Linked DNA regions of Homo sapiens: region 1 is linked to region 2. Evidence: fine-mapped expression QTL. Tissue or cell type: whole blood. Region 2 holds a variant in brackets; the other region holds the start of a gene. All regions are shown on one strand. Distances are from middle to middle.

Evidence for each region. PIP is the estimated chance that this variant, and not a neighbour inherited with it, causes the effect.
Region 1: it holds the start of PHC1, and the variant in region 2 is fine-mapped to the expression of PHC1 in whole blood (TOPMed, PIP above 0.99). The same link has a PIP of 0.9 or more in T cells, blood mononuclear cells, fibroblasts, lung and skeletal muscle.

What each region holds. Positions count from the first base shown.
Region 1 is chr12:8,910,935-8,918,934 of GRCh38, forward strand. It overlaps PHC1 (polyhomeotic homolog 1), which reads left to right and starts at 3,575. Exons shown (of 15, transcript NM_004426.3): 1 at 3,575-3,893; 2 at 6,696-6,857. The coding sequence starts at 6,744. RefSeq lists an enhancer at 708-1,260 and silencers at 3,457-3,566, 3,617-3,666, 3,737-4,026.
Region 2 is chr12:8,938,885-8,947,103 of GRCh38, forward strand. It overlaps PHC1 (polyhomeotic homolog 1), which reads left to right. Exons shown (of 15, transcript NM_004426.3): 15 at 421-2,583. The coding sequence ends at 575. M6PR (mannose-6-phosphate receptor, cation dependent) reads right to left here. Exons shown (of 7, transcript NM_002355.4): 2 at 7,345-7,521; 3 at 6,534-6,700; 4 at 4,917-5,026; 5 at 4,521-4,651; 6 at 3,532-3,658; 7 at 1,477-3,056. The coding sequence starts at 7,520. The coding sequence ends at 2,934. Among named protein-coding and RNA genes, the nearest start is that of M6PR, 6.7 kb to the right of the region's middle. The variant A/G (reference allele first, on the strand shown) is at 3,502.

The DNA.
Region 1 (8,000 bases), 28 kb before region 2:
GATGTAAACTGAATAAAACATAAAGAATGGTTTAGTTCTATTTGGTGATCACAAAAATATATTAGTTACTAAGGAAAATTAATAATAGCCTGTGCTATGTGTCAGGTCCCAATGTGAAGTGCTTTACAAACATCTCACTTATTTCCACCAACTACCAGGTGTTACCCCTGTTTTACTGAAAGCAAACCAAAGTTAAGGAAAGGTGCATAACTTGCCATCATTATAACTGTCAATACTGATGAAGAGTATGTTATCGTCAGTCTTATGCTCCTTAAGGATGTAGGGGTACTTCTATATCTTTTGCGGGCAATGATGGATGGAATATTGGGCTGAACCAATTAGTATGTTAATTTTAAACTTCTGCTTGAAGAAAGGATCTATGGTAGGTATTAGTAGCGAGAGATGAGAGGTATCCTTTATATCTTTTAATTTCATATTCTTTTCCTATGAGAGAAGGGCAAGAATCTAGGAAATTAATTCAGTTAACTAATATTTATTGGACATTTTCTATTTTCCAGGGATTACGAAATATCCCTCTTCTACATTTATCATTTAGACTTCAATTGTCTTCACTGAAAACTGAGGGGCTTAGTTTTAAAGTTCTTTTTTTTTCCTTTAAATATCTAAGAGCCTATAAATCCACTCAATCTTCATTTTCTCCCAACTAGACCTTAAAGTGGCATGCAGAATTATAGTGAGACACAGGTGGGCTGTGTATGGTGGTTCACAGCCACAGTTGGTGGTGGGGAGAGTAAAGGTTATGATTTCCTTTTTTCTCTACTTCTTCCTATCCATATTTGCATAAAAACATGGTCACACATTCTTACTTGATTACTTGTAGAAAGACACATTCCAAAGATACTAACACCTTTAGGGTAAAGGACATCTCTTCCTTCACAATTTATTGCAGAATGCTAGGTTTACAGGAGAAGCTTGAGGAATGCTTAAGCAATGTTCAGTTGATATGAAAAGTTCTATTAGCTTAACTTCTAGTCTATTTGCTTCAGTTGCTGCCAAACATCGACAGCCTTTCAAACCAGGATCCTTCCTTATTTAGAGAAGTTTGCAGGAGGGCTTCCATTTCCATACACCGGATTAAATGCTTTTCCTTCTCACCTGTTTAGGCTAATGGCCTTCAGTGTTATGCAGAGTAAAGACATTCTGTAGCCTCCATTCAGAAGAACCATTTTGTTTGAAAAAGAAAAGTCTAATTCAAGCAGAGTCATTAAATGAAAATGAGAAACTTTAGAAAAATTAAGAAAAAAAAGTTGAGTATTCTCTAGGGAACACAGATTGTTTTGCTGTTTAGACCGAGATAAGTTCTTCAATGCCTGCTCTCAAGCTGATTTAGTCTATGAAAATGATTTTCTTATGGATGGAGGCTTTCCTATAACTTTACTTTGCTGTTGATATATTTCTTTTTTATACTAAATCTTTTTTGGTGGGAACTGTTTAGACCTATGACCTTAGAACACTGGCCTGACTTGGAGAAAAATGAACTTGAAAAGAATCCTGTGATATATGGAGCACACACCTTTACATATAAAAATTAAACTACTGGCCCATAATCAGTATAGCTCGCCTCATGATAGATTATTCTCAGGCTAAATTTATAACAGGCACTCAACAAAAGTATTCATCGCTTATCCCCTAACATTATCTAGTAGCTATAGGAGCCGGTGACCTAGTAAATAAAAAAAAAAAATCTTTAGGGGTGGAATGTAACTATATGCAGTAGCGGTAATTCTGCTCCATTTGTAAGGAGGGTGAAATGCGATATGGTCATGTACCCTCTTGGTACACAAGTTCCATAGGCTATAGAAAAACAAGTCCATACCCTCTGATATCTGCATTCCTTATTCTTGTTATAGCTTACAAATCTTCTTTAGACACTTAACAGTGATAATTCTCCCAGGGAAACTAAGGAAGCACATGAGTCATGTTTCTTAACTTTAATGTTGTATAATCTGAAAATTATCTATAGATGCTTTTTTTTTCCATTGGTGCTAGAAAATTCCGCCTAGGCTCAATCGATATCCATTTCTAAACTTCTGCAAGAAAGCTTTAACTGCTTTGACATGCCAAAAATCCAGGTGTGAATTAAACAACGAATGCTTTACCTCGTTTTCACCACTAGTTCTACCAGTCAGAATCTTTTCAAATCATCCTCAGCCAGTGCCTGTCATCCACGGCCTGGTAACACACCCTTTCACCTCCTCATACCCCGTGTCTTCGCTTTTCCAGTCCTTTGGCTGCCCTCCGGTTTCTTCCCTCACATACCTGTCTGACTAGTTCCTAGAAGCCTGGCAGAAATTGTTCTCCGATTTTAATCTGGCTGCCACAAATGAAAGACCTTGGAGTCCAAATACTCCTCTCTCAAAGCAAAATCTAAATGGATATAATTTATAAGCAAAGATAACACTTCTGTTTTTTTCTCTATAAACAAACCATGCATGGGCTTTTAAAGGAGAAAAGGAAGAGTGGATTGACAGAGAAAATAACTGTTTAGGATAGAGGTTAGGAAAAGACTGAGAGCAAGAGAAAAGGCATCAATCCCAGTTGTTAATCCACGAGGCATCCCCCAGACCCTTCTGTAAAGGTTAATGAAGGCAGTAAGGCAGTTATCTTTGTTTCGTGCACTGATGCAATCCAAGCTTCCACGGTTTAGCACATAGTAGACGCTCTATAAATATTTATTGAATGTTGAACGATGAGAGAGTAATTAAAAACCGGTAAGTTGATATCATAAATACAACGACAACGGCTCCCCTATCAAATGTTTAGTGTTCCCAGAGACAGCCCCATTGTTCTACATCTCGTTATACTCTGGCCTTTTCCCGTTTTTGTCATTCGAACTCATATACATATTGAAATCGAAGCACACACAAATCCCTGAAATGACAAACTTAAATGCTATCCAAAGGAAGTTACATTAGGTTGCTGCTTTGAAAATGAAGTCAACTCCTAATGGGTTAGCTGTTTCTGCAGCATTCTTTCCCGCCTTCTTGGAGTTGAGGTGAGGGATTAAACAATCAACCTTCTCTCTCCTTTCTCTCATTCTCAAAGTTTTTCTCGCCTTTTCCTTCCTTTCCTTTGCTTCATTTCTTTTCCCAGTCTATCGTTTCTCTAGGGGTCGTTGCTTTGCTCTTTCTCCCTCTCTGTCTGTTGGTCCCTTTGATCCTTTCTTTCTACCCCTTATTCCCAGCAGCTCCAGAAAATACCTTCTTTCTCCCCGTCTCACGTCACTTCCCTCCCTTCTCCCATCTCCCTCTCCTCTCCGAGAGGTGCGTTCCCCACTAGAGGCCAGCACTTTCTTAGTTTCGTCCTTCCAACCGGCGAGCAGAACTCGGAGAGAAAGAAGGGGGTAAAAAAGAGGAGAAAGAGAGCAAGAGAGGAAAAAACCCCTGGGCCTGGAGCGCAGAGGCCCGGGAGCTGCGTCGCCATGGCAACGGGCGCCGGCAGGAAACGAGGGACGCGCGGGAGGGAGGGGGCGGAGGGCGCCGAGGGGAGGCGGAGGGACGGCGGGGGGGGGGTCCGGCTGCCCCGGAAGCACCTCCCCGCAGCCCCCTCCTCCAGCCCGGCCCGCAGCCCCTGGCCTGCGGCCCCCACCTTCTCGGCCGGGCAGGAAGTGACAGGCCCGGAGCGAGCCCCGGAGGCCTGGCTGAGCCGCGGCCGGGCCCGCACCCGGAGCGGCGGGAGGGGCGGGGAGCCGCGGTCGCGCCGGGCGCCTCCCACCCCGCCCTCGGCGCCCCCGCCCCTCCAGGAAGGGGAGGAGGCGAGGGGAGCCCGCCGCGGAGGCCGAGCGAGCCCCCAGCCCAGCCTGGCGACTGGGGACCCCGGCACATGAGGTGGACGCCCCCGGGGAAGACTTGGGTGCACAGCCAGGCGAGAAGGTAACCGGGCGACCGAGGGCCGGGGAGGGGCAGGACCTCTGGGGGCTTGGCTGCGCGGGGATGTATCCTCAGCCACCTCCATCTGTGTAACGCCCCAGGTACCTCCCCCAGTTGCTTTCCCTGCCTACCTCCGGCGCTGAGCTCTGCGGTCCTTCGGCTCTGCCTGTCCGAGTCTTCTGGCTATTCATTCTGCTGCGCTTCATGCTGTCTGTCCGTCACCCTAGCTGCCTCTGACTGCTCATTTTCTTATTCATTTTTCCTTCTCTGACTTTGGTCCTTCCAGCCGAGCATGCTGTCTAGTTATCTCCCTGCTTTCGTGGTCCGCTGGGTTCCTCAGCCTCCAGTTCCTTGACTTCTGCCTCTGCTCTCTGTATGCACATGTCCCAGCTCACTTGGGTCAGTTCATTCCCGGCGCACCACTGGATCCACCCCCTTCCCCCAGTGTATTTGATTTCTCTTTGAAACATCATTTTCATCAAGGTTCTATATAGAACGAGGACCCTTGGGCGTCTACTCCCTGTTCTCTTGATTATTACCGTGTCTTTGGCACAGTCTTCCCTGAACCACCCCCTTCTCCCGTCCCCCTTCCTATGTCCCATCCTTTCTGCATGATAAGAGTTTCGTGCTTAGGGATATTGACTTTCTCCAACTCTCGGCCCAATGCTAAGTCCACCTCAATGTCCCATTCTAACTCCCTTCGGTAGGTCTGTGCGCCTACCCAACCCCATGTATGCCCACATGCTACCTTTTAAGATGACCATGGCTTAGCTACTCTGGGGGCATCTGTGGATCAGCTTCTCACTGTCTTCCAGTTTAATTTGGAAAATTTTGATACCTGGTGCTGCCCAAACTGTTTGTTGTCTCCATTTTTTATATTTAATCTTGTAGTCATAATGTTGATCACAAATGAATACATTTATGTGCCCGGGATCCAGGAATCCTGGTTTTGGTGGCAGTTTCCCTTGATTTTATTGAGACTTTTAAGTTGGTCCCTTTACATTTTTATTTCTAGTTCACAATCCAAAAAAAATTATTAATCAGAATTCAGGTTTGGGAAGACGAGGGGTCATACGGTTTGTATTTTCACATGTGAATGTAGGAATTATGTTCTCTATACCTAGCAAAGGGGTCTCGTGTCTCTGAGTCCAGTGAACTAAATCCAGTAATCTATAAAACTGTGCCGTGCTGCCTCTAATCCTTACCCACTTTTTTTCTTCACATGCTGATAATGAGGATTCATGGGTCTGTATCTGTTTAGTGCTTTGATATTTTGGCAAAAGATGTGGGGAGAAGGTAGACTAGTTGAAGCTGATATGATTTTTCCTATGTACTTTTTGGGTAATATACATGTTTGCAGTGACATTTGCTAGTCCTAAATGAAACTAAAGACTGGGGGGGGATAATAGTGTGATTGGATGATACTGGGAATGAGATAATAAGAAATATCCTCAGCTTTATTGCCAAGGCCAAGCAGTTTGATACTTTGCTTGTTTGTTTGTTTTGGATGCAATCCCTAAGACCAGTCCATTCACCCTAATGAAACTGTTGACAACACTTAGCAGAAATTCTGGTTTGATGTTTATATTCTTAAGCCAGATAATATTTTGGTGACCTGATATTTCTAGTGGCCCAGTGCCTCAGAAGTAGAGAAAATAGTGTGTAGCTTAACAAAAGAGAAAAACAAAAAAAAAGAATGAGTAAAAACCTTATTGTCATTTAGTGCTGCTTTGGAAGAATATTTCTTCTTCTCATCTCCTGCCTCTTTGCTTGGTTCTTAGCAGTGTTTTCATATGTGTCTTTTTGCAAATGTAAGTGTAGTCCCCAGTGGGTAAATTCTGACATGTTAGTAGATTATAAAGTTGCATCTTACTTTCTTGAAGATTTTCATTGTGTGTATTTCTATGTTTCATACTCCGGAGTCATTTCTTAAAATGATATATTACATTCAGTATGAAGCCTCCTTTGCAGTGAGGAAACAGGTATAAGGAAGGAAAGCAACATGCCTGAGGTGTTATTAGTAGCCTGAGCTGGAACCAGGCAGCTATTTGGGCTATGTGGGCTGTAGGTGAGCTCTTCTGCTTCCTAGTTTTATGACCTTCCATGACCCACTGAATGTGTCTGTATCTTAAGGTCCTCCTCCATAAAATGAGGATAACTACTCACTATCATAGTGAATGACACTGCCTTAATTACAGTTTGGTTTGAAGAAGCATGTGTTAGTCCAAAGACTTGATACTTACTAGGGCAACTTCTTTAACCTCAGAAAACCTTATGTCTCAAATTGTAGAATGAGGATAACAGTGTTGACTTTACAGCACTACTATGAGAGAGATACAGCATAGGTGAAGTGCCTAGCCCAGTGAAAGGAGGCAACTAGTGGCTCTCCAGTATATGGTGACTCATTTGGATGATAACGATGCAGATGGAGACAAAAATGAGATAACCAAAACTTTTAAGTGGAAAGATTTTAAACTGTTAAAAAATGCTATGGGAATGTAAGGTAACTTTGGTATTGTAAGGTGCCATCTCACATTCTGGCCGTTTTATTTAATGACAGCCATGAGGGAATACGTAAAGGTTGTTTCTTTTGAGACTGCATAGCTTCAAAAGATGGTAGTATTGGGAAGACATGGTTGCAAGAGTGTATTGAAGATTTGGGAGTTTTAAGATGAGAAATCATGGCTTATGGAAGAGGAGGAAGATTCTTAGATACTTATGGATTTCCTGTGTTTTTGAATAATAACATGAGATAACAGCTTGGGATCAAGATATAAATTTTAACCTTTTACTGCTTCCCTCTAGGTCTTGAGTCAGACAGAGCACCAGCCTTGGGGACCCTGGACCACTATCATGGAGACTGAGAGCGAGCAGAACTCCAATTCCACCAATGGGAGTTCTAGCTCAGGGGGCAGCTCTCGGCCCCAGATAGCTCAAATGTCACTTTATGAACGACAAGCAGTGCAGGTGAGACTCAGCTCTGAGGGGCCATGGTCTGTGAGTCTTGGCTTGTGGTAGGCAGTGATGCTGGAAAATAATTGTACTCAGTTCTTTTTCAACAAACTGGGGAGAGTTGGGTTAGATGATGACTAAGCTGTCTTCCAGCTCTGAGAATCTTAGGAGTTTACAAATGTTTAGGCAAGCAAACAGTGAAATCTGGTCTTTCAAATAAGGATTTAAAAAACACATTCAGTCCATCTAGCTAGATTCTAACTAACCCTTTCTCATACTGGATTGCCAGGTTTTTAATCTTTGGCCATTCTTGTAAATCCCCTTGAGTAATAGAAGTATCATGGAACTCTTTAGAGATTTATTTTTAAACAAACAGCAAATTCCATGTTTTTATTAATTCTGTTAGGAAATGAGGTCTTTTAGCAAATATTTTGGTTACTAGAATAACTATACATATCATAAAAATAGTTCTAATTATTAAAGAATAAGAATACAGTAAAGTCCAGTTAGCACTAAAACCAAACTACTATTTTCATTTCATAAATCTGTATTAGCATACTGATATGTAAAAATGCCAATTAGTTGAATTCGTTGAAAATTTTACGTGAAGGAATCTTTAGAAGCCACTATTTATTTTTTCATTATTTCCAACCCATTAGGGCTGTATTACCTTTACTGTATACCTAAAATATACTTTTACATTTTCTTCTTTTTTTTTTGAGACAAGGTCTAGCTCTGTTGCCCTGGCTGGAGTGCAGTGGTGCGATCAGTGCTCACTGCAGCCTCAGACTCCCAGTTCTCCTATCTTATCCTCCTGACTAGCTGGGACTATAGGCACACTCCACCATGCCCAGCTTTTTTTCTTATTTTCTTTACATTAATCGGCATTTTGTTTATTTTCACCCGATCTAGTCTTTGCTATGGCATGTATTTCCAGCTCCCAATTGGAGAAACAAGTTTGTATAAATTGCACTGCTTTACTTTTCTTAACATCCTATGGAGAATAAACCATAGAATTACATTCACGCGTCACTTAATGACAGGAACGCGTTTTGAGAAATGTATTGTTGGACGATTTTGTAATTGCGTGACTGTCATAGAGCGCACTTACACACACCCAGATTATGTAGCCTACTCCGTACCTAGGTTATACAGTAT
Region 2 (8,219 bases):
CATGAATTTTGGCACACTGCAACCTCCGCATCCTGGGCTCAAATGATCCTCCTGCCTCAGCTTCCCGAGTAGCTGGGACTATAGGCATGCATCACCATGCCCAGCTGATTTTTGTATGTTTTGTAGAGTCAAGGTTTTGCCATGTTGCCCAGGATGGTCTTGAACTCCTGAGCTCAAGTGATCTGCCTGCCCTGGTCTCCTAAAATGCTGGGATTATAGGCGTGAGCCTCTGCACCTGGCCATTTTTTAAATACCAGTTGCTTTCTAATTTCATTTTGCTTTTAAAGCTTGCCATCTGACTTCATATTACTGAATTTAGGACAGGTACTTTGGAATTAATCATTGCTAGACCTCAGTTTCATTTAGCTTCCCTTCTCCTATCATCTGGCATTACCTACATGTTCTCACCATTTCTTCTAGGCTGCCAAGAGATTGCAGAGGAATTTCGCTCACAGGAGATTGATGGACAGGCCCTTTTATTACTTAAAGAAGAACATCTTATGAGTGCCATGAACATCAAGCTGGGCCCTGCCCTCAAGATCTGCGCCAAGATAAATGTCCTCAAGGAGACCTAAGGTGGCCCTCTTGCACAAACCAGCCTAAGGCAGACACTCTCCACTGTCCAGGTTATAACCTGGTACCAGCAGACTTTGCAGGGAAGAAAGAGTTGTTCCAATCATGTAACCTTCTGTAGGGGATTACTGAGACAGGGAAGAGAAGTGCAAGAATTGGTTGCTGGTGCTACATGGCGGCAGCTTTGACATTTTCTCTGGGTTCTACTTTATTTTTTAAAATCTTTACAGTTCTCACCATTTCACGTACCTTAATCCAATCTTTATAAAAGAGGCAGTCTAGAGAACTAGGACTGCTCAGCCTTATCCTGGAGTGGAGCATTTAGCCCAGGTCTTAATTCTCCAAGAGGAGGAATACATAGTATGGTAAGGCAAGGAACTGGGTGGAATGTCAGGTTGCCTGCCCAATGGGAGAGGTAGGGTTTTTCTAGCTTGTGTGACAGAAGTAGCAAAATCTGGTCCTCCCCCCTCCCAGTGTAGCTGTGGCTCAGAGTTTTTTCTTTTTGTTGTCACTTACTCCCTTGTGATTGAATTTTTTCTCCTGCATCCATGGCAGGATCCCCAGCCAGTATAGAGACTTGGTTGGCATCTTCTGCTGCAGGGACTAAAAGTATTTGACTGGGGCACATGTGGCTGTTGTCATTCTTTCTGCATCCCACTGTTCCCCTCCAATTTATGTTATTTTCTACCCTGTTTTTCAGTTCCATCTCTGCTCTGTCCTATAGCTTTATAAAACCAGAGTGTGTGGGGCTGAGGTCAGGAGTATAAGTACCTGCCTTAGGCACTATTCCTTATATAACAAAAATATTAAATATTTTTTTCCTCAGTAAAAGGATGAAAATTGGTTTCAGTTGTCTTACTCTATTCCAGTCTTTGCCCACTTTCACACAAATGACAAGGCCAATATGTTTTGTTTGTTTTTTAATCATTAAGAGTTTTTGTACAAAAGGTGATGGTTTTTTTTCTTCATTTTAAAACACCAGGGTGTGGGGGAGGGATGCAAACAAATAACAAAAAAGATGCTTTTGTAACATTATTTTCCCTGTTTAGAAAGAAAAAAATCACTCCAATAGTATTGAAAAGTCCAAAGATGAAATAGTTTCATTTTCTTTTCCTAAGGCTTATAAAAGGCCCCCTGCCTGTTGATTCCATCCCTCTTTTGTGTCCAGTGGAGCCATGTTACTCTTCAGTGGCCCAGGGGTTCACTATTAAAGAAAGATCAGTCCAGGTTTCTGGGCACATGGCCTAAACAGGAAGATGGAAGCATCAGAGGATTAAAAACCTTTCCCCACAGAAATGTGGGCAAGAAGACACTTCCCTGAGCCAGCAGAAGGGACAGGTGCAGCAGCATTCCACACCCAGCGCAGAGGACAGCAGAGCCCTCGATGTCCCACTTCTGCTTCCGTTCCCTTTCTAGAAGATTGAAAAAAAGGTCAAAACCACATGCCTGTGGAGAAAGTGCGACATGTTTAGAAATACTGGTAGGGAACCAGGAGTAAGAAAAGCTTTACCAGCTTTTACTACAAATGGATGAAAGACATCAGGATCCCACCACCGCAAGGTAAAGTGACTTCCCTTTTCTGGAACCCCTGTGGCACAGGAGTACCAATTTTCCTTTCCAACGAACTGGATTTCTGGATAGGCATTTTGGCTGTATGTGGACAGATAAGACCACAGTCCTTAGCCCAATCCCAGCTATACAGTCACCCCAATTTCCACAAATGATGTGATGGTACCGTATAATCCTGTAATTGGGAAATTTCACATTTTTCCTGTCCTAATCTCAGAGGTGGGAGAAGCAAGTCTAGAACATCTCCAGGCTCAGACTAAACGAGAGTACTTGGACTGCAACCAAGTAATCACTGCAAAGTAGTTCCAAGCAGCAAGAAATACCAGATTCTCATGGAGGCTACTATAGGGTACAGAATAACAACATGAAAGCAATCAACCCTGTATAAATAATGTTTCTTGGCATTTTTTTTTTAATTAAAGAAATCCAGTGTCTCAAAAACTTGTGAAAATGTGTTTAAAAAACAAACGGCCAGTGAGCCTGCTACACCATTTTGCCCATATGCCTATTGTAACTTCTGATGTCAAGAGACAATGCAAAAGCCTCTGTTTTCACAGGCCCTATTATATTAACTCTGACTTACAACTGTACCTCTCTAGAGAAAAAACAGAAAATAAGGAACAAAGGGAAGGCAGTTTTACTAGTGAGAAGATGCAAATCAAAAGCAAACTGGAAAGCAAGAGCAATAGTAAGGGTGAGATGAGGGACTGGAGTTGAGACTGCTTGAGAAATCTGGCTGTGTAGCTTTGGTTTGGGGGACTGAGGAAGAGGCTGGACATATAAAGTGCAATCTACATTGGTAATAAATGGTCATCCCTTTCTTCTGACTCCTCCCCCAGCTGGTCATCCCCCACACCACGATATGCTGCAGGCACATTTCGAGGTTTAGAACGGCAGACAAAGTCACAGCCATCCTGTAGGGGGAAAAAAAAGAAGGAAATAATTCGCAGCATCTAACTTTAGGATATGAGAAAGTGTACTTATGGTCTAGGAATGTGGCAAGAATTGGTTTTCTATAGGGATAATGAGAAAACCTAAAAGATCTGACAATCAGCCTAAATTCAATTTGGGGCAACAGGAGAAAAAGTTTCTTCTTATTAGGCCTCACCTTCTTCCCACCCAGGCCCTCTTAAAAGCTAAATCAGATTTAGAAGAGCCCATCTGGTCAACAGTGTTGCTCTTTCAGCAATGTCTTACCAAGGCCAGAAATGGATGCTGTGCCACTTACTACTCTGTACTAGGGCAACTGTCTTGTTTGCTGGGACTTTTGTGGTTTTAGCACTCAATGTCCTGTGTCCCAGGAACCCCCTCAGTGTGAACAAACGAGGATGGTTGGTCACCCAACCTTGTTTGCAGGCT[A/G]CAAATTCAACCAGCTGCCCTGTTACTTACTGCTACCAGGTTGCCAAGATCCTGCCAGAAGGCTAAGTGGGGAAACTGCTCCATTCCTTTGGCTCCCACTACCAGTCGCTGGTATAGGAACCCCCCAACAACATAAACAGCAACCAGTGATGCAAACCTGTAGAGAGAGAAAGACATCTATACTTAAGAACTGGGAAATAGTAAAAACTCAGATAGGATAACCTCTGCATTTATTGTCAGCTGTTTCCTAAGATACATTCCCTGAAAAGGAAAAATGAGTAGTGATACTAAATGAAAAAGGGGGCTGGTAACTCTTAGAAAACCAGTTAGAGTGCTGTCAGTCCAAGAGAAGCAAAGGCCCAGACAAAATGTGACAGCGTGTGATTCTATGGCCAAGAATAATCACCATTAAGTATATGATTCCATTTCTCTAGAAGTTCTCATAATCTAATGAAATAATATAAAAATTGCCTAGTCCTGCAGTAGGGGAAAAAAGCACCTCCAAATGCAAATCTATACCGGCAACTAAACATTAAATCTCATTTTTCAAAAACTTGCAGTCAGAATTTTTTTTTTTTTTTTTTTTAGACGGAGTTTTGCCCTTGTTGCCCAGGCTGGAGTGCAGTGGTGCGACCTCAGCTCACTGCAACCTCCACCTCCCAGGTTCAAGTGATTCTACTGCCTCAGCCTCCCAAGTAGCTGGGATTACAGGCATGTGCCACTGTGCTGGCTAATTTTGTATTTTTAGTAGAGACGGAGTTTCATCATGTTGGTCAGGTTGGTCTCAAACTCCTGACCTTAGGTGATCCATCTGCCTTGGCTTCCCAAAGTGCTGGGATTACAGGCGTGAGCCCTGTGTCCTGGCAGAATTATTTTATAGCCAGAGGATTTAAAAAGTTATCCCCATCAATTACAGCATAATGTACACATACAATTTGTGCTTATGTACCACCATATAGTTACTGACCTTAAAAACAAAAGGAAGGAAGGTCTGTTCTGATAAAGGAAGGCATACTCACGTGACAAGTAAGATGGAACCCACACTGAGGTGGGAGATCTCTGGTGAACAGGCCAGGCTGCTATCCATCTCAAAGAGGTAGAAACAATCTTGGACTTTGCCACGCTCCTCAGACACAGGGTTAAAATTGTCCTGATGATGAGATGGCATAACACATTCAGGTGGTTAAGTGTTTTGACTCCTGTCCAACAAAATAAAAAACCCAAAAAACATCTGCTCCTTCCTGGTTCAGCAGCCTATTTTCCATGGAAGATGCGTGTCTGACACAGAGAGAAACTGAGCTCCTAGTTTTCTAATGTCCATCCCAACGTATCGTGTCCCCTCTGGATATTCTCCCCAACCTCAGGTCAGTCCTTTCAGTCTCCTCCCTCGGCTTATACAACACAGGGTGCCTCACCGCTAGGGTGTGTCGATTGCAGGAGATCATCACCACTGCACGACGCTGCTCCTTGCCACAGTGGTTGTCATATTCATCACCCCCTTTATAGATCAGCATGATCCAATTACCTGAGGAGGGACAAGGAAAATGGAGCTATGGGGTGGGGGAAAAGCAGAGGCAGATCTGGGTGGTATGGCAGAGTGGAATTGCGTAATTCATTGCAATTGGTTATAACTAAACAACCCTCATCAGTACGAACTTGGTATACCAGAAATGCCAAGCTAAACTTGTTTGCTTACAAAGACTTGTGTTCCCTTAAGACAAGAATCAGATATTCATTTAAGAATAATCTTAATTTTTAACATTAAAGGTAGGCAACTGACAATGCAAAACCAATTATGATCCATACCTTAACACTGATTCATTTTCTGAATACCTTCTAAAAGCAAAAAAAGAGGTTCCATACAATTGCTGAGCAGCAGGGGTAAGCCCATCTAAGATTTCAACTTAGCCCCAGATAAATTCAGAGTGGATATCTAAGATTGGAATGCATATCTCTTCTTTAGTATTTACTGTGTTCAGTTCTTTTGCAAAATATCATTTGATTCAGTAATTGTGAGGTGAATAAGGTAAAGATTCTGCTCCTAGTTTTGCATATGAGAAAACAAGGTCAAAAGGTGATACGACTTTCCAGTCACAGGATTAGGAAACAGGAGGAGAACCTGGTCACATGATCCCCAGCCCCAAACCCTTTTGTTACTTTTTTATTGTATTATTTACCAGGAGTAAATAGCTACCTTGTATAACTTATTTATCTGTATGGGAGGGAATTGGACCATAGGTGCTTACATGGTCCTCTCCAGCAATATGACTTTTAAGAAATATCACCACCATAGCACAAAAATCAGTGGGTAAAGTTTTGCAGACTGAGTAGTTTGCAAAAAAAAGTTTGAGCTCTTAAAATTTAACTGGTAAACTTTGATTAATTTGATGAAAAGTGGTGGTGGTGGTTGGTATTTGTAAGTCTAGTGTGAAACTCATTAAAAGTATTTGGGTGAATAAAAGGACTCTAGGCTACAGAATTCTGGCTAGAGTTGGCTGGGCGCGGTGGTTCATGCCTGTAATCCCAGCACCTTGGGAGGCCAAGGTGGGCAGATCACGAGGTCAAAGATCAAGACCATCATGGCCAACATTGTGAAACCCTGTCTCTGCTAAAAATACAAAAATTAGCTGGGCATGATGGCACACACCTGTAGTCCCAGCTACTCAGGAGGCTGAGGCTGGAGAATCGCTTGAACCCAAGAGGCTGAGGTTGCAGTGAGCCGAGATTGTGCCACTGCACTCCAGGCTGGGTGACAGAGAGAGACTCCGTCTCAAAACAAAACAAAACAATTCTGGCTAGAGTCTTCATTTTGCATAAGTTTTTCACTGATTTTAATGCACAACTGTCCTGAGCTGTGGCTTACAGAGGAGCTGTGGAATTAGGCATCCTGTGGTATATTACAGTCTCAGGTGTGCCGAACCACACGTATGATATGCTGAAGACACTAGAAACGGCCAAGACATACAGGATTGTCAGAGGGATTGACTTGGGATCAGTTAGTCAATCGATGGTAGGAAGGGGAGTTTTCTTACTTCCGTTGAAGATGTGAGTCTCGTTGAGTCTCCCTACCACTGTCTCCTTCCCATTACTTTTGTTGATTTGCACCAGGCCTGCCCCAGAAGTGTGGTTGCCAGCTTCCCGGCACACCCTGAAGATGTAGATGTATGTGTCTGAACCCTGGCCCACAGTGCTCTCAAAGCTGTAAAGAGAAGTGGGAAGAAAGAAGAGGAGAGTTACTAGCTATCAGCCTCAGGAATAACAGCATCCCTTTCCTTAATTAAAACAAAACAAACAACATGCTCGATTTATTTATTTGAGGTCATGGCTGAGTGAATATTTGTTTAATTTTAAGATATTCATAACCTTGACAGACCATCCTTATTGCTGATGATGAATTATTAAAACACACTTGAGCTATCTTGATAGCTCAATATTCTAGTTATTTTTAGAATGCCTGTTAGTAACCATGTTCCAATGAATAAGGGCCCATGTTCATCGGATAGTCTCGTTTCTTAGGGACCAACTTCAGATTTATATATCTGAAGGTTCCTGACACTTATAATGACATGTGTCGGCCTAAATATGTTTATCTGATATTTCTAAAGTCCTATTATATGTAGGTGTCAAATAATCCTTAAATTTCTACAAGCTGGTCTCTTGGATCCAGTCTTGGAAATAGCTACACTTCTGTGAAAGATGAGAAAACTGCACACAGCAACTAAAAACTGGGCTGAGAATTTGCTCTATGTCATAAAAGAGAGCACATTATGAAATAAAATCAGTAAGAAGAAAAGACTTTAACATAAATATTTTCTCAAGCTCTTTAAGGTTCTTCTCATTTACCTTTTATTAAACAGTGGTTTCAGCCTCTTCACTAGAGCCAACTCTTTCTCTGACTCTTTACCCTTTTCTCCTACCAAGTCGCAAGTTTTTTCTTCTGTCTGCCAGGATTCTCTCACTGCCACAGCCAGGAGTAGTAGTAGCAGTCCAGTCCTCCAGCAGCTGTAGAAAGGGAACATCCTTTGGGAGAGAGTGTGTGTTGGGGAGGGCAGGTAGGATCAGGAGAGAGAGGAAAGAGATAAAGCGTATGAATGTGTAATAAATCGATGGTATTTTAATTATCCAGAAAGTACAAGATTCTCTGGCATATGCAACACATAGTACATTTTAATATCTCTGTAACAAGAGCATCTGCAGCAGAAAATTCATTTATATGTAACTTGTAGTCTAATGTATAGGTGAGTCTTTCAGAACAAACTACAAAGTTGGGAAGAGGGAAATGAAAGAACTTAAAAAAGAATGATGACAGCTTGGGTGGAGCCATCCTTGCCTCTTTACTGTTTGATGGCTTGATGTAGTCTTCTGAAACCTCTTTGGCCTCTACAGGTCACAAATCTCAAGGGTTTCTAGACTTCCCATAAGTACAGTTGTCTTTTACACTACAAATCAATGACAACAAATTGGGGATCACCAAGCCACTTTACAATTGAGTAAATTCAATGCACCTGCTGCTTGTACTGCTCTAGGAATGAAAACACACAGACAGCTCTCTTTCCCAAACTTACTAGACTGGTGCAAAGGTCATTGTGGTTTTGGCAAAAAAACCCCACCAAAACCTAACATTTTCTTTTCTCTTATCCATCTTCATACCCAGGACAGACTGACTTACCCTTGCAAAACACTTTACTCTGGTATCTGTTAATGATCCCTCAGGCCAT